Homo sapiens: one gene and its partners. The protein of the gene in region 1 purifies or fractionates together with the protein of each later gene. This does not show direct contact. Each region holds a gene or a part of one and is shown in the gene's direction. Other genes may lie near its edges. The genes, in order: PROZ, SIK2, GNL3L and MELK.

Region 1 (7,591 bases):
GGCGTGGGGGAGGCGGGGCGTGGGGGCGGGGCGTGGGGGGCGGGGCGTGGGGGAGGGCAGGGGCACGTGACGCAGGGCGTGGGGGAGGCGGGGCGCGGGGGAGGCGGGGCGCGGGGGAGGAGGGGCGTGGGGGGGCGGGCCGTGGGGGAGGAGGGGCGTGGGGGGGCGGGCCGTGGGGGAGGAGGGGCGTGGGGGGCGGGGCGTCGGGGAGGGCAGGGGCACGTGACGCAGGGCGCGGGGGAGGCGGGGCGCGGGGGAGGCGGGGCGCGGGGGAGGCGGGGCGCGGGGGAGGCGGGGCGCGGGGGAGGCGGGGCGCGGGGGAGGCGGGGCGCGGGGGAGGAGGAGGAAGGGTTCTGAGTGGACGCGGGGACTCCATGCCACGCGGAGGGCAGCCGCTCATGAGGCGGGGTGTGGGGGAGGAGGAGGAAGGGTTCTGGAGTGGCTTTTCTACTCCAGAAGTCTCCCCGATCCTGAAAGAAAATCTAGACAGGTGGAAAAAAGAGAAACATGTCCAGATAGTGTCTTCCACATTAATGGTCTCCCAAGCTCTGAGGAAGCCCAATGAGTTGAACAGTTTCTCATAAGCTTGCGGGTCCCTGTCAGTGCTTCTGAGATGCTAAAAACGCCAGGCTGTGGGCTGCGTCACCATGTGTCTCCTCTTTAATTTCTTCAGGAGCTCCAGGTGATAAGCTGCCACCTCCATCCACAATGTGGACATCAGAGGATGCAGCATGCTGTGGTTTGAATGTGTCCCTATAGTGCACGTGTTGGAAACTTAATCCCAAGGCAACAGTGTTGAGAGGTGGGACCTTTAAGACGCATTCATTGTCAGAGCCCACGTGAATGAATTGATACCACTATTGTAGGAGTGGGTTCGTTATTTTGGAATAAAAGGATGAGTTTGGCCCCCTTCCTCTCTCCCCTTTCTCTCTCTCTCTCTCTCTCTCTCTCTCTCTCTCACGCGCATCCACCTTCCACCATGGGATGACGCAGCAAGAAGGCCCTCGCCAGATGGGGGCCCCTGGACCTTTGATGTCCCAGCCTCCAGAACTGTAAGAAATAAATTTCTGTTCTTTATAAATTACCCAGTCTCAGATATCCTGTTACAGCACCACAAAGTGGACTAGACCACACTCTACTCTGTGAATCTAAGACGCACCATTATTGATGAACCTGAAAGAAAGAGCATATACCCAAATTAGCTGTGGGTCAGCTCAGCCTGGAGGCAAGAGGGGGAAGCTCAGATAATCTAAACCACAGGCCAGCCAGGAACCAGCTTTGCAATACATTTACACTATTCACATGGGCTCCCAAAACTCACACAAAAAAATGTATTTAAAGGGATTGCAAAGTGGCAGTGCCCCCAGGGGGCAACATAAAGCACAACCCCTTTCAGGAAGAACTCGGCCTTGTCCAGGCTGACATTAGAACATTGGCTGTAGGGAACAGGCCAATTCAGAGATGTTGAAATCTAAAACATAGGTCCCAGAGTTGATTGAACAGGTATTTAAATAGGGACTGCGGCAAGATCTAAGTATTCAATGACCAGGTTCTCCATAGGCTGCTCATTTCAGGTTCCACACAAAGTTGTGGGGTCAGTTGATTTAAGCTGGGGACCCCCACAGAGGACACCCCAACATCTGAAGGACACGACAAAGACCCCAAAGGAAGGAAGATTCTCCTCAGGTATACAGAAGGAAAGTAAACCAGTCAATGGAAAAAGTGTCCCAATGTTGGTTGGTTTGTTTTTCAGAACAGAAGAGGGTGACAGAAGAACGATTATTCATATGAGAGATGAGGAAGATGAGTAGAACGAGGTGAATCTTAATGTTTGGACAATTTATTATTGTAGAATTTTTGGTCCAAAGGTGGTATCTTTGAGAAGGCAGATGAGAAAATTAAATCACCACATACAACACGGTCAGTCCACGTACAACACAGTCAATCACAGCTGTGGCCTCGATGTTGATGCCTTCCTGTATTAGTCTGTTCTCATGTCACTGTGAAGAAATACTTGAGACTAGGTAATTTATAAAGAAAAGCGGTTTAATGAACTCACAGTTCCACATGGCTGGGGAGGCCTCAGGAAACATAATCATGGCAAGCAGGCACCTCTTCACAGGGTGGCAGGAGAGAGAAAATGTGTGTCAATCACAGGGGGAAGCCCCTTATAAAATCATTAGCTCTTGTGAGAATGCACTCACTATCACAAGAACCACCTCCATGATTCAATCACCTCCACCTGGTCCTGCCCTTGACCTGTGGGGATTATTACAATTCAAGGTGAGATTTGGTTGGGGACACAGAGCCAAACCATCCCCCAAAACTCACGTTGAAACCTAACCCCCTGTGCAATAGTACTAGGAGGTGGGGCCTCTGGGAGGCACTCTGCCTTCATGGATGGATGACTGCCCTCCCAAAAGAGGCTCCAGGGAGCACCCACATTCCTCCCTTCCACCATCCAAGGACACGTCTATGAATCATGGGCCGTCACCAGACACTGAGTCTACTGGAGCCTTGATCTTGGACTTCCCATCCTCCAGAACTGTGAGCACTACGTTTCTGTTTATCGTAAATTACCCACTCTAAGGTGTTTTGTTACAGCAGCCCCAACAGACTAAAATGGTCCATGAGGGAAGAGGTTGTAGCTCAGATACCCATGTCAGGCATATAGGATGTGCTTAATTAACACTTATTGATCGAATGTGTATGTCCCTGTCTGCCTTTCCATTTTTAGGCAGCTATTGATGGTTTTTAAACTATCCAGCAGAAGTATTTTTAATGTAAATTTCCATGTGGGAATACATTTTCACACAAAAAAAGGCACCTTTTCTTAAGTGAAGGCCACGTAGATTGCCAGGCTGGTGCAATTCACCCAAGAGCTATCCTATACAATCAACTTCTGGCTTTCAAATTATTTTAACTCACTCACTAAAGATAAACTTTATTTTCTTTTCCCAGCTTTTTAAAGCAAACTTCACAACTTCAGTGTATTTGCGGGCATGCCCTCTTAATCAAGGGTGTCAGCTTCTTAGTTTTCTTCTGTTCCCACTTTAACAAAATTGTATTTAGAATCCTTTCATTGAGTTTTGCCACCTTTGAGTGTCATTCAATCGAACAATATCTATATGCTGACAATGCTGTCATTTCATCTGTTACCACCTGAATCTCCACTGTGAGTCCCAGCTTCTCGGATGCCCACTCCTGTCTCCACCTGGACATCCCACAGACACCTCAAATTTGCCAAACCTCGCTTCCCTCTGCCCTCCTGGAGCTTGGCCGTCTCAGCACACGCACTGCCATCCTCCCAATCGCTCAGCCCAAACCTTGGAGCCGTGCTGCCCGACACAATTCATCATGAATCCCATCAGCTTTCCCTTCCTGAAGCATCCAGACTGCAAACGTGCTTCCTGCTGCATGGCTGCACCCTCACCCCCTCCTGGACTAGCCGGCAGCCTCCCTTTTGACTTCTCTGGAATGTTCTGTTCTCCACACAGCAGCCCAGTGATCCCTTCAGAGCACAAATCTTTCCATGTCAATTCCTGTTCCCTCCAATATCTTCCCAACACAGTGAAAATGAAACACCAGGTTCTTACCTCAGGCTTCAAGGGCTGATATGGTTTGGCTGTGTCCCCACCGAAATCTTATCTTGAATTGTAATCCCCATAGTCCCCACGTGTCCTGGGAGGGACCCGGTGGGAGGTAATTGAATCATGGGGGTGGTTTCCACCATGCTATTCTTGGGATAGTGAGTGAGTCTCAAGAGATTTGATGGTTTTATAAGGATCTGGCATTTCCCCTGCTTCAGTCATTCTCTCTGCTGCCACCCTGTGAAGAGGTGCCTTCTGCCATAATTATAAGTTTCCTGAGGCCTCCCCAGCCATGTGGAACTGGGAGTCAACTAAACCTCTTTTCTTAAATTACCCAGTCTTGGCTATTTCTTCATAACAGTGTAAGAAGGGACTAATACACAGGGCCTACATCTGAAAGCAGCAAACGACAACCCTGGGGCCAAATCTGGCCCCTTAATAGCTCTTATAAATAAAGCTTTATTGGCACACAGCCAAGTGTTCATTCATGATTGTCTATGCTGCCTCTGCTACAATGGTGCTGAGCTGTAGTGACAGACACTATTTGGCCCTTCCCCGCTTTCTCCCTCCTCCCTCCCTCCCTTCCTTTTCTCCCCTTCCTTCTTTCCATCCTCCTGCTTTCCCTCCCTCACTCCCTCCTGTCTCTTTCCCTCGTTCTTTTCTGTGTATTCCACACACACCTAGAACGTAAGCTGCATGTGACTTTGTCTGTCCCGCCCAGTGCTGTGTCCCCAGGGCCTATCTCACCTCCATTGACCACACACGGGCATGGGTGCCACCTTCCACCTTGCACCTGCTGCCTTTACCTTCTGTTCTCTGTCTCCCTAAATATCTCCCAGGGTCCTCTGAGCCTTCACCGTTCATTTCTCTGCCTGGCCTCAAACAGAAAACGTCAGGAGGGAAGCACACAGCTGCACAGGTCGTGCCCCGAGGCTCCTGCTGCCGGCACCTCCCCCAGCCTGGACTTTGGCTGTGTTTGTAGCCCTGTCCCAGCGCTCCGGGTGGGAATGGCAGGCTGCGTCCCACTGCTCCAGGGCCTGGTCCTGGTCCTCGCCCTCCATCGTGTGGAGCCCTCAGGTAGGCATCTGGCTTACCTGTCTGTTGTGCCTGTGCTGTGTCTTTCTTGACTCGGTCCATGGTGGATTTGTAGATGAGGCTTTTTCCAGGAGCCAGAGGAGCCCTGAGTGCCCAGACTAGTCTTAATTCCCCTGAAAAAGCTGTTTGGATCTTTATCATTTGGTGACAAGTATTTGGGACATGATAGTGTCACTTGGGGTCCTCCCAAGAGATGCCCAAATGGAAAGAAGCCTGTGTGCAGGGGATTCAGCCGGGAAAGGCCGGGGAGAGGGGAGGGGGAAAGGGGGAGGAGTGGGGGGAGGCCTGGGTTGGGCATTGGACGAGGGGAGGGGGTGGGGCAGGCTGAGCCCAGACTGCAATGTGGGCAGAGAGAGCCTTGGCCAGGCCAGCCAGGAATGCCCAGTCTTGAGTCAGGAGACATAGCCAGGGAGCAGCCACCCTGCCTGCCTGCCACCCTTCTACCACCAGCCACTTCACTGAAGGAACGACATGGACTCCATTCTGACTCTGCCTGCACAGGCGTCCAGGAAAGCTGCAAGTCAAAACACCCAGCATCCCCGCTGGCCCCATGGTCTCCCGCTGGCCCCATGGTCTCCCACCCTGAGAGGGTGATCCCCCCGCCCTGCCCTGCCCAGCACTTACCGTAGCCGGACTTAGCTGAGCCCCCCCTGCTGTAACCCTCAGCACCGAGAGAAAAGGAGGGAGGATGGGAAGGGCCTGGGCTTTGACCCTCCCGGAGAGGGAGAGAACATGCTTTGGGACCCTCAGGTGGGAAGAGGCTCCAGAGACCACTGCCGCGGGTCAACTCATTTGCCTTCTCCTCCTGGAAATCGCAGAGCCTGCTGCAATGTATAAGTTTCTTCTTTATGTGTTTTATCAAGATGTTAAATGCTGCGCACAGAGGCAGCACAGGAGCTGATGGCTCTTGGTCCCCAGTTCTCAGTACGGGGACCTTTGACCCCAGCTCAGCCTTCCTTCGCACTCAGACCCAAAACCCAGTTGGAGCCCTCCCTCCTCCACTTTCCTGACTGAGGCCCGTGGCCTCTCTGCAGAACCTTAGTGTATCCGCACTGATCCTGGGGCTGATCCATTCGCCCAGAGGATGAAGTGCTTGCCTACCTCGGGGGAGGGAGTAGCGGGGTGGCCCTGAGGCCCTCGCAGGCTGAGAGCCTGTGGAGACGGACGGGGCTGGGGCTGGCGGCCGGCCGGGGAGGAAGCCAGGCAGCTCTGGAAAGCAGGGCCCTCGGTGCTCCCAGTCACCTGCCTTCTTGTCTCGTCTGTAGTATTTCTCCCGGCCTCCAAAGCAAACGACGTTCTGGTGAGGTGGAAGCGTGCGGGCTCCTATCTTCTGGAAGAACTCTTCGAGGGAAACTTGGAAAAAGAATGTTATGAAGAAATCTGTGTCTATGAAGAAGCAAGAGAAGTGTTTGAAAATGAAGTAGTCACTGTATGTACCCCCACCACAAACCACAGGCCTCCTCATTATTTAGACTTCTGCTGGCCCAGGGAGCATCATTTCTCAGAGATTAAGCTTAATTAATTAGCCTATTTACTTACCGATGAGGTTGACACAATCCCAGTTTTACAGATGAGGAAACAATTTAGAGAATCGACTTAATCCACCTTTCCCTACAGCAGTGAGTGGGGCTGGAAGTCAGCTCAGAGCCCACTGGACTCATTTCTTCAGGTCAGGCAAGGCCCACACACTGATCAGACACCCAGCATACATTTTCTTTCTAGGCTTCAAGTCTGAATAATTCTCCTAATTTTAGATACTCCTACCCCAAACTAAGTGTCCCCACTCCCTACAGAGGTATATATCTTTAAAATTCAACTCGGTTTATAAAAAGCGAAAAGGTGATGTGACTTCTATATCATGTGCTTTTGTGGAGGGTGGCGTGGAGATTGGCCCTAGAAGGGAAGGGCCACGTTAGGGGCTGTGGGTGGTGGGTTTGTGCCATGTCATAGACTCTGGCCTTCCTCAAATAGGTGGTGGTAAGCACATGTTGAGTAATATATCTTACAGATACATTTAGTTACTATACATTTAACATAAACAAATAGGCTGTAAAACAGGAAAATTGTGCATTGTTTCAACCACTATTGTCCTATTAAGTGAATAAAATCAACATTTTCTTACCTTCAAGTTCATCTACAGGAAAGAATATAGAAAAACAAATATCCCATTTGTAACATTTTTATGTTTTAACTCTAAAGGATGAATTCTGGAGACGATATAAGGGTAAGTGGTTTCCTTCGTCTCCTCAGAAGTATTAATTCCTCGGGATGAGGTGCGTGGGTGGGCTTAGGACGCTTCACGACCCCAGCTCAGCGGATGCCAAGCCTCTGGCTCCAGGACCCACGGTGTCTCTCCAGGGAAGGGCAGCTCCGACTCTCCCCAAGGACCAGGTCAGGAAGCCCCCGGGCTCTGCCACCAGGGCCACAGGCAGTGCCTGGTTTGTCTTGCCCAGTGTCTGGGTAGTTTCTTGGCACTCTGGGACATGGGCCACAGGCCAGGAGGGCCCCCCCAGAGCAGCTCCTCCAGCCGCCTGGCTCCTGGGCTCCTGGGAAGCCTCATGCTGCAGCAGGGTCAGAACTCGTCTCAAATTTTGGAAAGTCATGGCCCCGATGGAGACTTTGGTTAGGAGACTCCTCCCAAGGGAGGAGCTCTAGGTGGGCAACTGCAGAAGAGCATGGGACAGAAGTAACACAGATGGAGACCCACGGGGCTGGGGGAGGCCAGGGTAAGGACCCACCTGGGAATGAGTAAGCAAAGAGCTGCAGCCACCACCAGACAAGCACGGGGACAACTGGGCACAGAAGGAAGCGGGAGAGGCAGGGAAGGCCGGAGAAGGGCTGATGGGGCGGGACAGAGGGGACCGCGTGCGGACGAAGAAAGGGCACCCAGCAGAGTGGGAGGCACT
Region 2 (6,931 bases), on another chromosome or scaffold:
GCAGGATTACATCCGTTTATTATCAAGGGCAACCTTGGTGAAAGCAGAAAGGGTGTGTGCTATTGCATATATATGGGGGAAAAGGCAATATATTTTTCACTGAAGCTGAGCAACCACATATTGCTACAAGGCAAATCAAGAAGACATCAGGAAATCAGATGCACAGGAAATAAAGGAAAGCTGTGCTTTGTCATTGAATCCTAAGTTCTTAGCTGCTGATGCAAGTTGTCCCCCAAGGCCATCACAAAGCAGTGGGGCATGAGCTGTGTTTCAGGGGCCACTAAATAACAGCTGGTACTGACCCCAGAAACCGCCTTCATCTCCATTCGGAAGCAGGTGACACACCCCTTCAGAAGGTGCCCTGGGTTGCCGAGTGTCAGAATATACTCAGGACTCCAGAGGTGTCACACGTGGAACTGACAGGAGACCCGCCACCGTGGAGGCAGGGGGCAAGAAACTCAAGAACGCATCAAGAGCACCAGCCCTGGGCCAGGGAAGACAGGCTCTTCCTGCAGTTTCTCGTGGACACTGCTGGCTTGCGGGCAGTCGGTCTCCAGGGTACCTGTTGTCTCTTTTCCGATGTAATAACTACTTTGACCTTACACTATATGTTGCTAGTAGTTTATTGAGCTTTGTATATTTGGACAGTTTCATATAGGGCTTAGAGATTTTAAGGACATGATAAATGAACTTTTCTGTCCCATGTGAAGTGGTAGTGCGGTGCCTTTCCCCCAGATCATGCTTTAATTCTTTCTTTTCTGTAGAAACCAACAGTTTCCATTTATGTCAATGCTAAATCCAAAGTCACTTCAGAGTTTGTTTTCCACCATGTGGGAATCAGCATTCTTAATTTCGTTAAAGTTTTGACTTGTAATGAAATGTTCAAGTATTACAGCAATATTCAAAGAAAGAACCACAGATGTGTTAACCATTTAAGCAGATCATCTGCCAAACATTATATTACTAATAAAACTTAACCAACACTTACAATTCAGTCATCAAAGTAAGTAAAAATTAGATGCTACAGCTAGCTAACTGTATCCCTAGAAATGATGAATAATTTGCCATTTGGACAGTTAACATCCAGGTGTTACAAAGTCAGTGTTAATTCTAAAGATGATCATTTCTGCCCTTTAGAATGGCTTGTCCCATCAGCAGATGAATGTGTTAAGCACAAAGCATCTTCCTTAAAGCACAAAGAGAGGGACTAACTGATGCTGCATCTAGAAAACACCTTTAAGTTGCCTTTCCTCTTTGTAGTTAGCGTTCAGGCAGGTGACGTGTGGAAAGTCTAGGGGGTTCCATTCTGGCCATGCGAGCCCAGCTCCTACCAACGTCGGTAACTTGAGCAGTCCCTGTTGCTGGCCAGAGACTGCCTGGTCGCCAGCGCTCACCATGGGTGCCAGGATGCTTCGCAGAGGCACTGTGCTCACGGTTGGACTTGGTGTCAGTGGGAAAGGGCAGTGTGGGGACTGTCATTTTTGTGATTTAATAACACACAGTGAAAATCCAGGAAGAATGAATTAAGCTTCTTCTGGGAGTTGTTTATTCCTGCTCGTGCTTAAGATTGATGATTTCGTGAAATAAAGAACATCATTTCATTTAAGAGATCATTTCATTAAGATCTCTAATCTGTTTTGAGTCTTTACAAAATAGCCAGTTATAAAATGGGGCTTGATTTGTTTAGACTGAAGGAAGACGTTTTCCCAAAATATACTACAGAAGTGCTACAATATTTGCGATATTAAAATGCCTGCAGATTGAAAATGGGGGCCACTCATTTCAGAACTGCAGGAATGGTGTAGTTACAGATCGACATAAACTCCTGCCCCCCAACAATGCCATGAGCTGCTTAGCCCAGGAGACCTGGGAGCTATGGCAGGACGGTTAGGCCAGCCGATGAGGGACTGCAGAGAGGCTACTGGAAGGTTAAGGACCCAGAGAGAAATCGAGAGGTGCCCTACAGCAGCCAGGCCTATCAGGATCCGTCACACACGGCAGCGGCGTGGACACCGGCCTGATGCAGAGCGTGACCCCTCCTGCTGGGACCTGTGTTGTAAGCTCCTATTTGCTTATCTTGTTTATTTCAAGCAGAAATCAATAAATTCCATAACCCTCTGTATTGACTGCAATGTAAGCTGCTGAGGAGACTGGTTCTGTTGGTCAGTCAGGTGTTTGCTCAGCCCTGTCTGATCACCTGTGCTGCTCTGTCCCTAACTAGTGACCCATGGAAGCTTCCAAGCAGTTTTCTCTTCATCACTACTAACAAACAAAACACTAAGAAGGCTTAGTATCGCTCTTTTTCTGCGGGGCTACTCTGAAGTACTGACTTGCTTTCCAGTCTGATTCACGTTAGCAGTGTGTACACTACTGTATCATCATCAGCTTCATCACCCTGTAAACCAGGCTCCTCTGAAGAGACTTTGGTGAGATGAACGTGAGGTAAAAATTTCGTTCGGCAAAAAGTGCAATATGTGTGGTACTTTATTTTTTATGTTCTTTTTTTAAATCTGGGGTATTAGTCTGTGCTTTGGGAGAAATGCACTAGCTCTGCAATTCCCAGCTGGGCAAGTGTGTCTCTAGTATCTCCACGCAACTGATACACTGGTCCCTGTAAGGCAAACAGCATGTTAGCCCGACAGGAAGAGGGGGCCCACTTTCACATTCCCGGTGACACTGACCGTCCCCAGCTGCCCCCTCGCCACCTCTGCCTGCACTGCCTTCTGTCACCGTGGGAAAAGGAGGCTGATGGTTCTCTACACCATCCACCTTGAGAATCCCTGCGTGGGAGAGCATCAGGGCCCACCAGGGGAGTGGGGATGGGGCTCAGGGGCTGTTCATGCCCATCTGAGCAAACCCCTTCTCTCTTCCATCCACTTTTGCCTCCTAGGAAAGAAAAAGTCAGTGGCCCTTTCTTCCTCAGATATCAAGAACTCCCAAGTGTTTAAACCGTATGCTGGAGTCAGTGGTTGGGACAGACAGGAGCCCAAGACTGAAGCCAGCCCTTGCCTCTTGTGTCCCTTCCCAACTCTGGTGCTGGAGTAATGGGGTGCTCTGCATTTTGATGGGGAGCAAGGGGGGACCCCCCCTGTAGGAGTATCGGCCTCTCCCCTGCCCCCTACCCTCTCTCGTGGACCAAAGTCTCCAGCAGAAGAGACTCATCATAAGACTGACGACTCCCCCACCTCCACCCACACACCGAGTGTCATCAGTCCTAAAGGCAGGGAAACGCTCACAGAATTCTGCCCACGGGTTAGATGTGGGGAGAAGGATATTCTCAGCTCCAGAGTGATTAGGTGATCAGCCAGAAACTAAGGCAAGGTGACAAGCAGCAGCCTGGAGTCACAGTTGGTCCCAGGCGTGTGGGCACTAAGCAGCCTCTGGAGACATGCGGGCAGTTGAGGATGCAAGGACACAGTGAGTGAGTGGCGCTCCTTTTTGGGGTCCTCCAGCCTCTAGTCAAGCCCCAGGTTCGTAAATATGTTTGTATTACATTTTAAAACCTGTATCAACAGTCACATTTAAGCTCCCTATTGGTTTAAAGAAAATTCATACTCCAGGTAACTTTTTCCCATTCGACCTCCTATAGAGACAATATGCAGTGTGTCATTTCACAGTCTCAGTCCCTGTGAACAGTGGCTGACACCGGTGCCAGGGCTGACCTGCTACACTCAAACTCCTAAACTGGGCTGCCTCTAACTGCCTCCTGGGAAGCCACCCGAGCCACTCGGTCTCTTTGTGCCTAAACATGAAAGGTGAAAATTGGAGAACAGGGAAGCTCGTAAGTTGGAGTCATTGTACAGGCAGGGATCTTTGATCATTTTGTTGCTTCTGGAATTTATTTAATTTTTTTTTTTTTTGAGACAGAGTCTCGCTCTGTCACCCAGGCTGGAATGCAGTGGCGTGATTTCAGCTCACTGCAACCTCCACCTCCTGGGTTCAAGCCATTCTCCTGCCTCAGCCTCCCAAGTAGCTGGGACTACAGGTGTGTGCTACCGCATCCAGCTAGTTTGTATATTTTTAGTAGAGATGGGGTTTCACCATGTTGTCCAGGCTGATCTTGAACTCCTGACCTCAGGTGACCCACCCACCTTGGCCTCCCAAAGTACTGGGATTACAGGTGTGAGCCACCACACCCGACCTGGAATTTTTTTATAGAACTTATCTTCAGAGCAATGTATGAAAGACAAGAGCAGTATCAGCCGGGCGCGGTGGCTCACGCCTGTAATCCCAACACTTTGGGAGGCCAAGGCAGGCGGATCACGAGGTCAGGAGATTGAGACCATCCTAACACAGTGAAACGCCGTCTCTACTAAAAATACAAAAAATTAGCCGGGCGTGGTGGTGGGCGCCTGTAGTTCCAGCTACTCGGGAGGCTGAGGCAGGAGAATGGCGTGAACCCGGGAGGTGGAGCTTGCAGTGAGCCAAGATCGTGCCACTGCACTCCAGCCTGGGCGACAGAGCAAGACTCCACCTCAAAAAAAAAAAAAAAGACAAGAGCAGTATCATCTGCCTCTGTTTCTAAACTGGACAAAGAGATTTTCTTAAAGTTTCTATCATCTCCCTTCTGACAGGTTCTACAGTGTGGTCTGAAGCACCTGTAATGTCAGAGCCCTTGTCTGGCCCTTGGTGGCAGGTGAACGAAAGCAGTGGAGCCTCTCACCTTCCAGTAGCCTCTCACATTCTTATTTTACCATTTTTGTCCTAATTAAGGTAGCCTAGCTGATTCTAGAAGACAGCCATCCTACGTGCACCCCCACCTTGTGTCCACATCTTCTCCAGGCAGGTTTCAACCTATCAGCAGACTCAGGCACACACTGGGGCACAGATAGAGAACCAGGCGGCAGCAGTGCTCGCAGACCCACCCAGGGAGAGCTGTGATGGGTTCTGCCCAGATACTCTGCTCGCCCACCCACAAGGGAGCAATAGCTTATATTTGTACATTAGTTTTACCAAGCACTTTCTCTTCTAACCCTCACAACAATTCTATGAAATTAGCTGGGGAGATACTGTCCTTATTTTTCACAGCTGAAGAAACCAAAGCTTTGGGAAGTTTGTGACTTCTCTGAGATCACAGCTGGTGATAGAAGGAGCTGGGACACGCGCTTGGGTTGACTGGCTTCTGGTTTTGGTTCTCTGGCTTCTAGTGCTGGAAGAAGCCCTCTCTTTCCCTTCTCTTTCCTCAGTAGCATCTGACTCTTTTCATAAGCAAACAGCTGTATAAACAAAGCCCCCATTTTGGTCAAGCACAGGGTGAATGTGATATTGTTCCCACAACCTTATTCTCCACTCAACAGCCGCCTGGCTTTGGGGAAGAGGCCGCCTTCAGGTGACAGTGCAGCTGTCCAGGTGGCCGTGCACTGAACCAGGCTGAGGGAGACAAAAACCCCGCAGACCCGCCTGCCTTTCAGCGTCCAGTTAACTGCAGAAGTTTAGGCTCACCTCAAAGATGTCTAGTTTTTCCAAGTTACAATACAGCAGTTTCCTACAGAACACCCCCTTCCTCAATTGCCAAGGGGCCGCATCGCACGGCATCAGGCCACCACTGCAGGCCAGCAGATTCCACCCCAGGAACGGTCATGAACTCAGCCTTTGTCTCAACGAGGGGCGTAACATTTCCTTACAGTCAAGCCCCATCAACTAGAAGTGCTTATTACTTTTAGGATTAAAAAAGTAATAACAGACTTTGACTTAATACTCTGTCTTTTCAGAGGCAAAGTGGGTGGGTAGAGGGGAGCTTTAAAAATAGAAGTACAAAACAACATCCTGGAAACATATGACCCCAGATGGAATAATGTCACATTCCCCAGTGCAGATAATGGGCTGCTGCTGGCTCTGTGGTGTCTGTCTGCAGAAGATTTGCTCAGTCAAGGAAATTCAAGTGGTGAGACCTTTCCACCATGGGTGGTAAGAGAAACCTGCCTTCACCAAAATCTCTGAAGGGGAAAGAAGTGGAGAGAAAGGTTTGCTTCACTTCGGGGACTGCAGTTTGAGAAATAAAAGGGATACAGAGATATCTGCACTTTGTAGAAAGGGCAAGATTATTTGCTTATATCTGAAGGGAGGTGGGTGGTTTTGCTGGATGTTTGGTCTGAAAGAGTTACTTTTGATAAAGTTAATCTAACTGTAGTTATATTTTCTGTGTGCTTTTTTTTAATTACTAAGAAAAAAATTGGTGAGTTCAGTAGCTTTGGTATTATGAGTGCAAATCATAATAGCTCCAATGTGAAAAAAAAAATCAAAAGTATAACTTGTCACTTAATGTTAGAAAATTGCCTAAAATGCAGTGTAATAAATAATCTCTGTACCAAATAGTAATTTAAATGGGGTAATTTTCTGCAAGGAAAATGTACTGTTTTTATGTTTCCAACCCTCTTGAATTAAAATAAAAACAACTTCTTTTCTAAGAGCCCGGGTGATGTGAATGTCAGGTTAATGCGATAGGGTTTTTGCCTCATCGGGCCTTGGGTGGAATTTTTAGAGTATGGAAGGTGGCTGTGTTCTCTGAGTTCTGGTGCTCATTTCAGGCTGCAGAAAAGGACAGTGGATAATATGTTCTCATTGACGTCAGCAGGGTAAATAATACCTTGCTCTGAATCGCCCGAGTACACGTTAGCCGCTGCAGATCGCTGACGGAAGCACTGCTAACCGCAGCCTGCACAAGGACAGGGCCCTGCTGGGCACTGCTTAATTACTGCTCCTTGATTCTCAGAGTCCCAGGGCAAAGCGCATCAGCCCAGGTAGCCTGGGCAAGGGCCTCATGCCGCGGTAGGAGGAGGGGAGGCAGATGCAGGGGTCCCCGAGGACAGGCAGCTACAGGGCAGGGGCTGGAAATGGGAGGGGAGGTGCTGCGAGCTGCCAGGCAAAAGACACTGCTACTTAGTCACGATGTCACATCTTCTCTGGGGTCTGCCAAAGGCCTCGACACTGC
Region 3 (7,024 bases), on another chromosome or scaffold:
TAAGTTGTACTAGTGATTAAGAGCGTGCCTGTAATGCCAGCTGCTTGGGAGGCTGAGGCAGGAGAATCGCTTGAGCCTGGGAAGCAGAGGTTGTGGTGAGCCAAGATCATGCCACTGCACTCCAGTCTGGGCGACAGAGTGAGACGCTGTCTCAAAAAAAAAAAAAAGGAATAAAACAAAACAAAAAAAGAAAAGAAAATGATAACATTTGGATAGCACACTGGCACTGGGCAGGCTGGATGAGGATTGTGCTCTGTTTTCTGTGTGAATGCTGGCCCTGCCAGTGGACAGCTTGGTGGGAAAAAAATACATTTTTTATATAATCATAAAAATGTCATCAAGAATCATACTGTTAATACCAAAAGCAAATAATCATACTTTTATTTTATTTTTTATGTTTTTTTGAGATGGACTCTTGCTTTGTTACCAGTAGAGACGGGGTTTTGCCATGTTGGCCAGTCTGGTCTTGAACTCCTGACCTCAAGTGATCCGCCTGCCTTGGCCTCCCAAAGTGCTGGAATTGCAGGCGTGAACCACCATGCCCGACCAAATAATCATATTTATAAGTAACACAAGAAAGGTGGTAATTATACTTTATTTAGGAACATCTAATACTAGATGATAGAAATATTGATAGTGATGGAAAAGACAAAAATTACCTCGTTAAATAAAGTAGGATATATGCATACTTAAGAATTCTGGCTGTTTAAAAGATAAAGTAGTATCATATAGAAAGATTATATGGAAAAACTGTATTGTGTGGAAAGACTATTAGATGGAAAGATCTTCAGATTTGCTAACTGAAAGCAGGCATTTGCCACTATGCCCCACTAATTTTTTTTTTCAATAGAGATGAGGGTCTTTCTATGTTGTCCAGGCTGGGCTTGAACTGCTGAGCTCAAACAATCCTCCCATCTTGGCTTCCCAAAGTGCTGGGATTACAGGCGTGAGCTACCACACCTGGTTTTTTTTTTTTTTCTTTTTAACAAGAGGGAAAAATAGTCTCAGCTTGGCACTGGTGAGTCTGGAGGGCTACGTTCTCTACCTACTGACCCCCGGATAAACGTGTGGCAGTGAAAACAACAACCACCTTTTGAGAGGCCTGCAAGTGAAGCATTGTCCTTGGGAGAGCCAAGTATCAAGGCAGGAGCTTGGACAATTGATCCCAGGGAGAGGTTGTTAGGGGAGTGCTGATCACCCAGGTGGGAGTTTCAGAGAATGTTGTGGGAAATTTGATGCTACGGCAGAGGAAGGATGAGGGGAATGAAGTCAGTGGGTGTACAGGGACATCTGTGGGTGACAGTATGGGAGATGAGGGATTAGCGAATACAGAGATCTGCTTTTGAGTACTGATGAATTGGTGATTTTAGGCCTAGATGATATTGGTGGATGCATTGAGGCTCAGAGAGGTTTTAAAAAATTCTTCAAGGTCATATAGCTAGGTAGTTGTTGAGCCAGAGTAAGAATGTCTGCTGGTTATAAAATGGTAGCTGTTTTCTCTCTGGAGTTGTTGAAAAACCTATGAGCAGAGGCTCCTGAGTGCTGGGAGGGATGACTGACTGCACCCCCTTCTCCTTTTTCCCTCCCCCCTTCTCTTCTCCCCTCTGAAGCACATTCTTTTTCTCTCCAAGTGATGTGTTTTCTTTCACTGTGTGCTTGTATCCATTGCAGGCACTCAGTTTCCAGGGAAGTTAGGCAGATGGAAATTGTTGAGTGAAATGTCCAGACCTGGTTCATTCCAAACCTCACATTTTTTTTGTTGTTGTTGTTGCAACATGAGTACTTTAGAAGAAAGGAGACTGGTGGTCTGTTTCGTGTTTATTTAAACTGTGTTTATTTAAATTCGACCCATTCACATTTGTTATGAGACGTTTATGTCTGGTCAGATTTCTACCGTCTTATTTTTTATTTATTTATTTTTTGAGATGCAGTCTCGCCCTGTCACCCGGGCTGGAGTGCAATGGCGCGATCTCAGCTCACTGCAACCTCCGCCTCCTGGGTTCAAGCGATTCTCTTGCCTCAGCCTCCCGAGTAGTTGGGATTACAGGTGCCTGCCACCATGCCCAGCTAATTTTTGTATTTTTAGTGGAGACAGGGTTTCACCATGTTGGCCAGGCTGGTCTCGAACTCCTGACCTAGTGATCCGCCCACCTCAGCCTCCCAAAGTGCTGGGATTACAGGTGTGAGCCACCGTGCACGGCTCTCTACCATCTTATTTTATATTTATTATTTATTTTGTTTCCTCTTATTCCCTTATTTATGTTTTGCTAACTTGATGAAGTTTTTAAACAATCCTCCATCGGTAATTAAGTTATGTTGGTAATTGTATTCATATTTATATCAAACATAATTAATTCTGTATTTATCACTTTACCAAAGTTAAATAATGACTATTTTGTAACCTACCCTTTCAAAATGAAACCTTTAGCATGCTTTCATGCTTTTGCTTTTCCAACCCCCATTACTTGATTCCTGGATTTTATTGAAATAATTTGGTATTTCAGTTCTGAGCTATTTCCTTATGATATGCTTCTTCGATTTTAAGAATCCTTTTTTTGTTGTTTTTTTGAGACAGGGTCTCACTCTGTCGGCCAGGCTAGAGTGCAGGTGTGATCATGGCTCACCACAACCTCCGCCTCCTGGGCTCAAGTGATCTTCCTGCCTCAGCCTCCTGAGTAGCTGGGACAACAAACATGTGCCATCACACCTGGCTAATTTTTTTTTTTTTTTGAGACAAGAGTCTTGCTGTGTTGCCCAGGCTGGAGTGCAGTGGTGCGATCTTGGCTCACTGCAACCTCCACCTCCTGGGTTCAAGCAATTTTCCTGCCTCAGCCTCTCGAGTAGCTGGGATTACAGGTGCGTGCCAACACGCCCGGCTAATTTTTGTATTTTTAGTAGAGACGGGGTTTCACCATGTTGGGCAGGCTGGTCTCAAACTCCTGACCTCAAGTCAGGCATCCGGCTAATTTTTGTATTTTTAGTAGAGACGGGGTTTCACCATGTTGGGCAGGCTGGTCTCAAACTCCTAATTTTTGTATTTTTAGTAGAGATGGGGTTTCACCATGTTGGCCAGGCTGGTCTTGAACTTCTGACCTCAAGTGATCCACCCGCCTTGGCCTCCCAAAGTGCAGGGATTATAGCTGTGAGCCATCGCTCCTGGCCTCAGTGATAAGTTTTAGTAGATTTCCGTAGATTTCCTGCCCACCACTGTTTGTTTCCTTTAGCTTGGGATCTTTATTCTGATTTAATTTTTATTTTGCCAGTAGTTTTATCCAAAAGGAAACACAGGGCCAGGCGTGGTGGCTCATGCCTGTAATCCCAGCACTTTGGGAGGCCAAGGCGAGCCAATGACTTGAGGCCAGGAGTTTGAGACCAGCCTGGCCAACATGGCGAAACCCCGTCTCTACTAAAAATAAAAAAATTAGCCAGGCACAGTGGTGCACGCCTGTAATCCCAGCTACTCCAGAGGCTGAGGCAGGAGATTTCCTTGAACCTGGGAGGTGGAGGTTGTAGTGAGCTCAGGTGGCACCACTGCACTCCAGCCTGGGCAACAGAGCGAGACTTTGTCTCAAAAAAAAAAAAAAACAGAGAGAGAGAGGGAGGGAGGGAGGGAGAGACGAAAGAAAGGAAGGAAGGAAAGGAAAGAAAGGAAAGAAAGAAAGGCAAGTGGTAATCTTTGCTCACCTGAAAATGTCTTTTTCTTACTTTCACAAAGTAAGAGTGATCTGTTGGTTAGAATTTTATCTCTTTATCTTTAGAGTTCAGAAATTTCATCAGGATATGTCCAGGGTATGTCTTTTTGGTTGTTAATCTTTTTTTTTTTTTTTTTTGAGACAGGGTCTCTGTTGTCCAGGCTGGAGTGCAATGGTGCCATCATAGCTCATTATAACTTTGAATTCCTGGGATCAACCAGTCCTCCCGCCTCAGCTTCCTGAGAGCTAGGACTACAGGTGCATGCCGCCACACCTGGTTAATTAAACTTTTTTTTTTATATAGACAAGGTCTCACTATGTTGCCTGGATTAGTCGCAAACTCCTAGTGTCAAGCGATCCTCCCACCTCAGCCTCCCAAAATGCTGGGATGACAGGGTGAGCCATGGCACCCGGCCTTGGTTGTTAATCTTGCTGCTGCCTGTGTCTTTCCAGTCTGAAACCTCAAGCCTATGTTCAACTTAAGGAACTTTCGTCTGTTATTCAGAAAATTATTGCTTCTCCATTTGTACCCTTTTCTCTTTCAGGAACTCCTGTTTAGATTTTAGCTGTCTTGGCTCTATTGTCCATTTTTTCTTTTATATTTTTGCTCATCATTTCAATTTCTTTGAATTTTTGCTCTAAGTAAGCCCCTCCTTTGGTCTTCTAGCTTATTAATTTGGTTGTTAGTGATGTCTTTTTTGTTTTTCACTATTTCTATTGAATTTTTTTAAGAGACAGAGTCTCACTATGTTGCCTAGGCTGTTCTCGAACTCCTAGGGTCAAGTGATCCTCTTGCCTCAGCCTCCCAGCTAGCAACAGGCAGGTGCTACTGTGCCCAGCTTAAGTTTTGACTGTTAAAGCAGTCTGTGTTTGTGTATTTTTTTAAGAGATGGGGTCTTGCTTTGTTGCCCAGGCTGGATTAGAACTCCTGGGCTCAAGGGATCCTCCTACCTTAACCTCTCATGTAGCTGGGGCTACAAGCATGCACCACGGCACCCAGCTTTTGAATTTTTATTCAGTGTCAAGTTTTGGAAAATCTTTTTTTCTCACACAGTTCCTTTGAAGTATCTTCTTGATTCTCCTTAAGAATTTGCAGTAGCTCGAGACTAGCCTGGCTAAATGGCAAAACCCCATCTCTACTAAAAATACAAAAATTTGTATTTTTGTATACGAATACGGGAGGCTGAGGCAGGAGAATCGCTTGAACCCGGGAGGCAGAAGTTGCAGTGAGCCCAGATCACACCACTGCACTCCATCCTGGGCAATAGAGCAAGAGTCGGTCTCAAAATAAAAAGAATTTGCAGTAGAACTTAAGTTCTGTTTCGTACCTTAACTCTGCAGTGGGAGCCAACTGATGTGATTGTGGAGCCTGTTCTCTGTGTGGTATTCTCGAGCTGCTCATATAATATATTTGTTTGTATATATCCTGAGCTTCCAGAAACTCCTGTCTCTCTAGGAATTCCTTGAGCCCCTATGAAGGTGGTAAGAATTAAAGGGAGCCATTCTTCCCAATAGGCCAACTGTGAACGGGTTGAGAGATGGGACTTCTTATTGAAGAAGGGGAGAGGCCTCATAAGTTCTTGGGCTTTGCTAAGTCATGATTGGAGAAGTGGTAGATCTCTTCTTTTTGTATCTGAGGGAGGCGGCAGCATTTTGGCTGAGTAGGTCAAGTCCCTTTGGAGGCAATGGCCTGAGCAGGGTCAGCAGGAAGGATGGTTCTTTCCCCACATACTGAGGGCATCTGCCCAGGTTTAGTGGGCTGGGACTCCTTAGATTACCTTCTCATTCTGCCAGCTCCCTCATCTCAGCCTGGCACTTAAATTGTTGAGTTTCCCCCAGTAGGAAGTTCTGGGGGAAAGAGGAGTCACAAGCACATATTCAGGTTTCTCTCTGTACAGAATTCCTCTCAGAATTATTTGAGTTTGCAGTGAAATAATGTGCAAATATTATATCCAGTACTTCCTCTGATACTATTGCTGCCATCCGCATCTCTTGTCTTGTGCTGGATCTAGACAGACATGGTATCTGAGGCTTCCTAGCTAGGTTCCCAGTGTGGCCTGGCCTTGATTCAGATGTCAACAAATATCGTGTAGATGGATGACGGCTCTTTTCTTTCTTTTTTTTCTTTTGTAGAAAATAAAAAGCCAGGTGAAGGTTCCAAGGGCCACAAGAAGATAAGTTGGCCCTACCCTCAGGTAAGGTATGCCTGTTGTTGAGGGTAAGGTCAAGAACAGGTTGCTTGTCCTGGGAGAGGCCCACTAAACCCAGTAAATATTGGGTGACTCTGGACAGAGTGCCACATTGGAGTCAGTGGATCTGGCTTTCCCTCCTTCTCTGGGTGGCCGCAGCAGAGAATCAGCAGCATTTTTCCCAAGTCATATGCAGCTTCGTGCTTGATTTACCTTGGTAGGGATTATCATTATCCCCATGTTTTAGTTGAGGAAACTGTCAGTGAGAAAGTTCCTAGGTTCAAGGTAACGCAACTGGGATTTGAGACTGTCTGATTCTCAAGTCCCTGTTTCTTATGGAGAAGAGGGAGGCCAAAACATCATCTTTGGTTCCTGGATCTCCTGGTCCTGCTGGGAAAGGTGTGGGTAAGTAAGGCTTGGGAAAGAGCAATGAGAAGAAGGTATAGGCCAGAGAAGGCTTGGGTTCTCACAATTTAGCATGGGTGAAGCTCTCAAACTTTAACCAGTCCTCTAGAATCACCTGGAGGATGGGGGAAAACATCGATTGCTGGGCCCCACCTCAGAGTTTCTGATTCAGTAGGTCTGGCATGGCATCCCATGATTTGTATTTCTAGCAAGTTCCCAGGTGCTGCTGCTACTGCTGGTCTGAGGACCACTCTTTTGAGAGTCACTTATCTAGAAAGGTTTTCCCTGGGCCTTGGGAAACCTTCCCAGCTGCCCTTCCCCTCTGAGAGGTCTCCTGTCAGTCCCTGCCTAGCTATAGGAGAGAGGACCTCTACCCAGCCAGATGGGCAGATCTTTGGGGATGGAGCCCTTTTTGCTTCTCTCCTTTCTTTGTCCCCACAACTACACTTATCTGAGAAGCTTTAACTCCTGCTGCTCACCTTGGGAGTGAGGGGATGAGAGGATGAGAGGATTGAGAGATAGAAGGGGCATTTATGAGGGGATGTTGTCTTCCTTCTAGGGCTTCTTGCTGCCTTTTTGAGGTGATTTCCATGGGTTCATTACCTCTGTTTTTTTTCTCTTATGTGGTGGCCAGCCTGCAAAGCAAAATGGGAAGAAAGCAACCTCCAAAGTGCCCTCTGCACCTCATTTTGTTCACCCCAATGATCATGCCAATCGAGAGGCTGAATTAAAGAAGAA
Region 4 (7,024 bases), on another chromosome or scaffold:
CTCCTGGGTTCAAGCAATTCTCCTGCCTCAGCCTCCCATGGAGCTGGGATTACAGGCATGCGCCACCACACCTGGCTAATTTTGTATTTTTAGTAGAGACGAGGTTTCACCATGTTGGTCAGGCTGGTCTCGAACTGCTGACCTCAAGTGATCCACCTGCCTCAGCCTCCCAAAGTGCTGGGATTACAGGCGTGAGCCACCATGCCCAGCCCCTTCTAAAGTCTTTCCTGAGCAAATGCACAGCCCTGGGTATGAGCACATCCTATACATGTACATTGGGCTTGTAGATACCCTGGTATATTTTGGAGCTTTTCCAATTCACTGTGGACATCTTATTCTCTAACTTTTTTTTCAGCATTTTTGTTAGTTTATTGTGGTCACCAGCTATTACTTACTGCTTCGGCAGCCACAATGTGCAACAATTGCCTGTAAATTTTTTTTTGTTTTTGAGATAGGATCTCATTCCGTCAACCAGGCTGGAGTCCAGTGGTGTGATCATGGCTCACTGCAGCCTCGACCTCCTGGGCTTAAGCAATTTTCTTGCCTCAGCCTCCCGAGTATCGGGGACTATAGGCATGCACCACCATGCCCAGCTAATTTTTACAAAATTATTTTGTAGAGACAGGGTCTCAATATTTTGCCCAGGCTGGTCTCAAACTCCTGGACTCAAGAGATCCACCCGCGTTGGCCTCCCAAAGTGCTGGGATTACAGGCGTGAGCCACTGCGCCTGGCACCTCTAAATCTTTTTAACAGATGCTGCTGGGGAAAAGGCTGTTCATACTGGGCAGGCTCTGAGTAAGGTCAAATAAAGACAGCTTTCAGGCTGGGTGCAGTGGCTCACGCCTGTAATCCCAGCACTTTGGGGGGCTGAGGCGGGTGGATCACCTGAGGTCGGGAGTTCAAGACCTACCTGACCAACATGGAGAAACCCCGTCTCTACTAAAAATACAAAATTAGCTGCCTGTGGTGGCACATGCCTGTAATCCCAGCTACTCGGAAGGCTGAGGCAGGAGAATTGCTTGAACCCGGGAGGTGGAGTTTGCAGTGAGCTGAGTTCACGCCATTACACTCCAGCCTGGGCAACAAGAGCAAAACTCCGTCTCAAATAAAAAACAAACAAAGAATAAAAAAAGACAGCTTTCATAGTAGGGTCTTCTAGGGAACTACTGGCCAGGCTAAATAATGACAGTTTTCTGAGCATGAAGCTTTGAAGGAGCTCCAACCTGTTCTGCCCCCTCCAGCGGCTCCTAGGTTGCTGGTCTTCATCGTGATTGTGGGCTGTGGGTTTCTAAGACTATCATAGAGCTGGAGAGAGAAGAATGGGGATAGGTAGGGCAAATTCAAACACCTCAAACTCACTGTTTCTACTTAGCTGTTTTCTATGAATAAATGCTGCGATCTTTGGCTAATACACAGAGTTCTGAAACAAAAGAGGTATACTTTGTTTATGGATAGGGAGATTTGAAGGTATAGATTTCAGTTTTTCCCAAAATGAATTTTAAATTTAATGTAATCTCAACTTTTCAGTGGATGTAAAATAAGTCAAAATGATTCTAAAATGTATGTGGAAATACAAAGGGGCAAGAATAACTAAATCATTCCTAAAGAATAAGAAGATGGGAGGAAACTGGTCAACCTGATAAAAGAACTATTATAAAATTAAAGAAAGTAAGATTTCCTTAATAAATAAAACAATGAAACAAATAAAACAATGAAACCTTTCATACCTTATATTTAGGTATGTCTCTTTAAAAATAACATAGCTAGGCCGGGCGCGGTGGCTCACGCCTGTAATCCCAGCACTTTGGGAGGCCAAGGTGGGTGGATCATGAGGTCAGGAGATTGAGACCATCCTGGCTAACACAATGAAACTCCATCTCTACTAAAAAATACAAAAAATTAGCTGGGCATGGTGGCGGGCACCTCTAGTCCCAGTTACTTGGGAGGCTGAGGCAGGAGAATGGCATGAACCCGGGAGGCGGAGCTTGCAGTGAGCCGAGATTGCACCACTGCACTCCAGCCTAGGTGACAGAGCGAGACTCCGTCTCAAAAAAAAAAAAAAAAAAAACAAAACAAACAAAGAAAAAAACATAGCTAGATTTGGTATGCAAACTGAAAATCTTGTCTTTTGAATTGAGCGCTTACCCAACTTATTTTTATTATGGATTTAGTTATTATATATCTTTCTTTTTTTATGTTTCCTATGTGTCTTTTTCTGTATTTCCCCCTTATTTCTTGATTTTTTATGTTAATTTCCCCCCACATTTTATTGGTTTCTATTTGATTTCTATTCTTTTAATATTTACTCTAAATTTTTAACATTTAATTTAACGAAATATAAAGTGAATCTGTATCTTTTTTTTTTTTTTTTTAAGATGGAATCTTGCTCTGTTGCCCAGGCTTGAGTGCAATGGCGTGATCTCAGGCTCACTGCAACCTCTTCCTCCTGGGTTCAAGTGATTCTCCTGCCTCAGCCTCCCAAGTAGCCGGGTTTACAGGCACCCGCCACCATGTCTGGCTAATTTTTGTATTTTTAGTAGAGACAGGGTTTCACCATGTTGGCCAGGCTGGTCTCGAACTCCTGACCTCAGGTGATCCACCTGCCTCGGCCTCCCAAAGTGCTAGAATTACAGGCGTGAGCCCCTGCACCCTGCTGTGAATCTGTATGTTTAATTTCCTTCTAAACAATATGAAGGCCTTAGAACACTTAATCTCTGATTACCCCTCCTGGATTCCATGCTATTGATGTGTCCAGTGTATTAGCTCTTGAATGTTTTTAACTTTTTATTTTGAAATATTTATGGATTCACAGGATGTTATTGAAGATATTATTCCACTTTCTTCTTGCTTCTATTGTTGCTATTGAAAAACCAACCTCAGTCTAGTGCCTTTTTAGTCTGTCTTTTCTCTCTGGCTCCTTTTAGGACCTTCTCTTTGCTTTTGGTGTTCTGCAGTTTCACTGTTAGGGCTACTGCGTTGCACACCTCCAGGGAACACACCATCTGTGTGGTGTCTCTGTGGATAGTGTCCTCTGGAGTTGTATAATCTGGTAAATAGAGATGTGGATTTCTTTTATGTATCCAGTTCATGATTCATCATGCTTTCTATGTATGGGGATTTGTATTTTTAATCAATTTTTGAAAATTTCTTGAATAATATACTGCTTTTTCTTTTTCTCCTTTTCCTTGTTTCTTTTTTTTTTTCTTTTTGAGACAGAGTTTCTCTCTTCTTGCCCAGGCTGGAGTGCAATGGCACGATCTCAGCTTACTGCAACCTCTGCTTCCCAGGTTCAAGCGATTTTCCTACCTCAGCCTCCCGAGTAGCTGGGATTACAGGTGCCTGTCCCCATGCCCAGCTAATTTTTGTATTATTAGTAGAGACAGAGTTTCACCATGTTGGCCAGGCTGGTCTTGTACTCCTGACCTCAGGTGATCACATGACTTGGCCTCCCAAAGTGCTGGGATTACAGGTGTGAGCCAGCGCACCCAGCCTGCTTTTCTTTAAAACAATATTTATATAAATTTATAGAGTACAAGTACAATTTTCTTAGATGCATAGTGGTCAAGTGAGAGGTTTTAAGGTGTCAGCTGAATAATGTACATCGCACCCCTTAAGTAATTTCTCATCACCAACCCCCTTCCATCTCCTCACCCTTCCAAGTCTACATTTTCTATCATTCCACTCTCTACATCCACGTGTACACCCTTTTTTAGCACCCACTTATGAGTGAGAACATGCAATATTTGTCATTCTGTGTCTGGCTTGTTTCACTTAAGGTAACCTCCACTTCCATCCACCTTGTTGCAAAAGATAGGATTTCATTCTTTTTTATGGTTGAATAGTATTCTATCTGTGTGTCTGTCTGTCTATCTATCTCACATTTCCTTTATGCAGTCATCTGTTGATGGACACTTGGGTTGATTTTGTATCTTTGCTATTGTGAATAAGTACTGAGATAAATATACAAGTGCAGGTATGTTTTTGATGTATTGATTTCTTTTCCTTTGGGAAAAGAAGTAGAGGGAATTGCTGCTTTTGCATTGTCCATACTATGTATATCTGGAACTTAGAATAGCCTTATGTTAGACATTTTATTTCATTTTCTGTTTCCTTCAACCATCTTTCACGTATCGTATGTCTTTTTCTGTCTTGGCTACATTCAGAGTTATTTCGGATTTATATTTCTATTAAAATATCTCTATTTCTTTTATTCTGTTATTTGACATGTGCATTGCACTTTTCATTTTTATCATGTTTTTATTTCTAGAAGTTTTTATTCTTTTTCAAATCTATTTGAACAGTTTTGGTAGTCTTTTGTTCTTTACTCATGTTTTTGTTTCACTATTTTAAACATGCAAACATACTTATTTATGTTCTGTATTTGATAATTTTAATATCTGAAATCTTTATGCTCATAGTGCTTGTGTCTTTTGGAATTTTTTATGTAGGTTTATTTTTCTTTGAACTCTATGGGAATTATCTGAGGCTTGGGTTAAGGGCTTGAGTTGGGTTGGAGTGAAGCTTTTCTTTCAGGTAGGAGTTGTGCGTGCTTCTACCAGGTTCCTGGGGCACAACTTAGCATAGGACTACTTTAAGTTAAATTTAGGCTTGAGGTTTCTGGGACCATGCAGGTTGTATTAATTTGGACCTTTATTTATCTGAAGACTGGCCTGTGTTTACTTACAAATTATTAAAAGAAACTTCATTTTTCTCCTCCCTCAGAACCAAGACCAAGACACCCTTTTTCTTGCCTATTCCCTTTGAAGAGCAGATTTATATTTAACTCAGCCTTTAATTTTAGCTATAGCCCTTCCTGGCTTTACATGGGAGCTTTGGTTCTAACTCACCACCTTGCAGAGGCCCAAGGCTTCTGTGGCTGTAGAAACACATGCTATAGGTTATCAGAGGCAGAAGATAGCTGCCCTTAGGGCAGCAGAGAGTTTCAGCCTTGGTTACTCCTTTGGATTCATTCTCATGTTTTTAGTTTGGCCTCTCAGGATTTTACTTACTCTCTTGCAAGCTCAACCATAAATTTAAAAGGATTAAAAAGTATTTTTTATCCAATATTTCTGTTAGAGTAGTTTAACATGTTTTTTCTGCCCTAATTGCTGACTAAACTTTTTTTTTGGTACATGTCAGAGGCAAGCCGTGACTATCTAGGTATGGAAAGCATTTCTTAGTGATTGATTTGTGGCCATTCACAATATTGCCTAGGATCTGAGTATGTGTATACACTCAGCCTGTATCATGTTGAAAATTACTGTCAATAGAACAGACTAAAGTGATCTACATGTATTAAAGAAAACTATATATTTTCAAATTTCCTAATGTCAATAATATCCTTTTGATAATTCATTTTAATAAAAATAGTACAAGGTAGTTTGCAAATGATCAAGGAATGTTGTAAAGAAATTGACTTTTCTTCTTCAGTGTGCTTTATCTAGTAACTTTTTTTTTCCAGTTTACCAAGTACTGGACAGAATCAAATGGGGTGGAATCTAAATCATTAACTCCAGCCTTATGCAGAACACCTGCAAATAAATTAAAGAACAAAGAAAATGTATATACTCCTAAGTCTGCTGTAAAGAATGAAGAGTACTTTATGTTTCCTGAGCCAAAGACTCCAGTTAATAAGAACCAGCATAAGAGAGAAATACTCACTACGCCAAATCGTTACACTACACCCTCAAAAGGTATTTGCTAAGTGAATTAAGCAGTAAGAAGTTTCATTTTTCTTACCATGTTAAGTAAACATATAGCAGGTCAGAAATGACTAGCATTGCTTTCAGGAATTTCTAGGAGAAGTGAAGCTGTTTTTTATCATGTCATTTGCATTAGTTAAAATGAAAGCATATTTGTCAATTTCAATTTATTCTCAAATGATACCAAGTTTTTCCTCTTTTTCACGTTTATAAAATTGAATCATAGCATCCTAGGATATCAAAGCTGAAAGGCAAGTTAGAGCTCATTTAATCCAACTCCCTTTTTCACAGCTAAGAAACCTGAGACTCAGAAGGAGTGAAGTGATTTGCCCAAGGTCATATACCCAGGTTTAGACCTTTCATGCCCATTTACCCCGACTTATGACTCAAGCTGACGCCTCCGCTGAGCCTTTACTTATCTGGATCTCCAGTTGTGGTGTCTGGTCCTGTTCTGCCCTATGGTATTACTGCCTGTCCTCAGCAGGCAGGGTGAATCCATGATGCCCTTCCAGATATCTGTCTTTGTCCAGTTATCACAACTTCCTCATTTCCCTTGGTTTCCTCTTCAATTTAGTCATGAGCAGTTATTTAAACCATTTCCTTTATGATACTTCACTGTTTTGGTTGCTGGCCTCATCTGGACACATTCTATTTGATCAGACTGCCTCTTAGAATACAGTGCCTAGAACTAAACTGAGTTTTCTAGACTAGGTCTCACTAGGGTAGAGTGGTAAGTGTCATGACAGTAGAGACTCTCTGCCTTGTTTATTGCAGCATGGCATGGTCTGTAGTAGGGGCCATACCTGTCTGGTACATAGTACACAGTACTAGACCTGATGCCTAGTACATAATAGGGGCCATATTTATGTAATGAATTAATAAATTAGAGCCCAAAGGAATTTTATTTACAGTGATCCTGTTTATGTCACTTTAAAAAATGTTACCTAAACTTTATTAGCCTTTTTCCCCCCACCAATTGTGACCTTCTCAAGTTTCAAGATTCTAACAAACCTAAACTCTGGAGCATTGCCATGTGAACTGCTGGGAAACCACATCCTGCCATTGTGCTTCTAGTGTACTAATGGAGCTCATAGCCAGTTTGAGGGGTTAACTTCTTGTCTATAAAGATATTACGGAAGACTTTGCCAGAATATTTGCTAGAAGTCCCATTTTTATGTTAACGTCATTTTCCATTTCATCAACTCAAATAACACTTTCCGCCAAAATGTGAGGCCAGTTTGGTGTCCTGATGATGTCTGTGTTTGTGTGTGTGTGTGTGTGTGTGTGTGTGTGTGTGTGTGTGTGTGTGTGTGTGTGATGG

The links.
Region 2: the proteins of PROZ (region 1) and SIK2 purify together in Homo sapiens (affinity purification with mass spectrometry; 2 studies listed by BioGRID and IntAct, with this or other methods). This does not show direct contact.
Region 3: the proteins of PROZ (region 1) and GNL3L purify together in Homo sapiens (affinity purification with mass spectrometry; 2 studies listed by BioGRID and IntAct, with this or other methods). This does not show direct contact.
Region 4: the proteins of PROZ (region 1) and MELK purify together in Homo sapiens (affinity purification with mass spectrometry; 2 studies listed by BioGRID and IntAct, with this or other methods). This does not show direct contact.

The regions. Positions count from the first base shown.
Region 1 is NC_000013.11:113,154,064-113,161,654, forward strand, and holds the start of PROZ (vitamin K-dependent protein Z isoform 2 precursor), read left to right. Parts: upstream 1-4,584; 5' UTR 4,585-4,597; coding exon 4,598-4,667; intron 4,668-5,135; coding exon of another isoform or gene 5,136-5,201; intron 5,202-5,950; coding exon 5,951-6,114; intron 6,115-6,884; coding exon 6,885-6,909; intron 6,910-7,591. UniProt on the Homo sapiens protein: Appears to assist hemostasis by binding thrombin and promoting its association with phospholipid vesicles. Inhibits activity of the coagulation protease factor Xa in the presence of SERPINA10, calcium and phospholipids.
Region 2 is NC_000011.10:111,724,447-111,731,377, forward strand, and holds the end of SIK2 (serine/threonine-protein kinase SIK2), read left to right. Parts: 3' UTR 1-2,518; coding exon of another isoform or gene 2,519-2,611; 3' UTR 2,612-3,606; coding exon of another isoform or gene 3,607-3,764; 3' UTR 3,765-6,409; downstream 6,410-6,931. Other genes in the region: PPP2R1B (serine/threonine-protein phosphatase 2A 65 kDa regulatory subunit A beta isoform), read right to left, coding at 3,607-3,764. UniProt on the Homo sapiens protein: Serine/threonine-protein kinase that plays a role in many biological processes such as fatty acid oxidation, autophagy, immune response or glucose metabolism.
Region 3 is NC_000023.11:54,533,215-54,540,238, forward strand, and holds part of GNL3L (guanine nucleotide-binding protein-like 3-like protein), read left to right. Parts: intron 1-5,825; coding exon 5,826-5,887; intron 5,888-6,920; coding exon 6,921-7,024.
Region 4 is NC_000009.12:36,659,888-36,666,911, forward strand, and holds part of MELK (maternal embryonic leucine zipper kinase), read left to right. Parts: intron 1-5,462; coding exon 5,463-5,694; intron 5,695-7,024. UniProt on the Homo sapiens protein: Serine/threonine-protein kinase involved in various processes such as cell cycle regulation, self-renewal of stem cells, apoptosis and splicing regulation. Has a broad substrate specificity; phosphorylates BCL2L14, CDC25B, MAP3K5/ASK1 and ZNF622.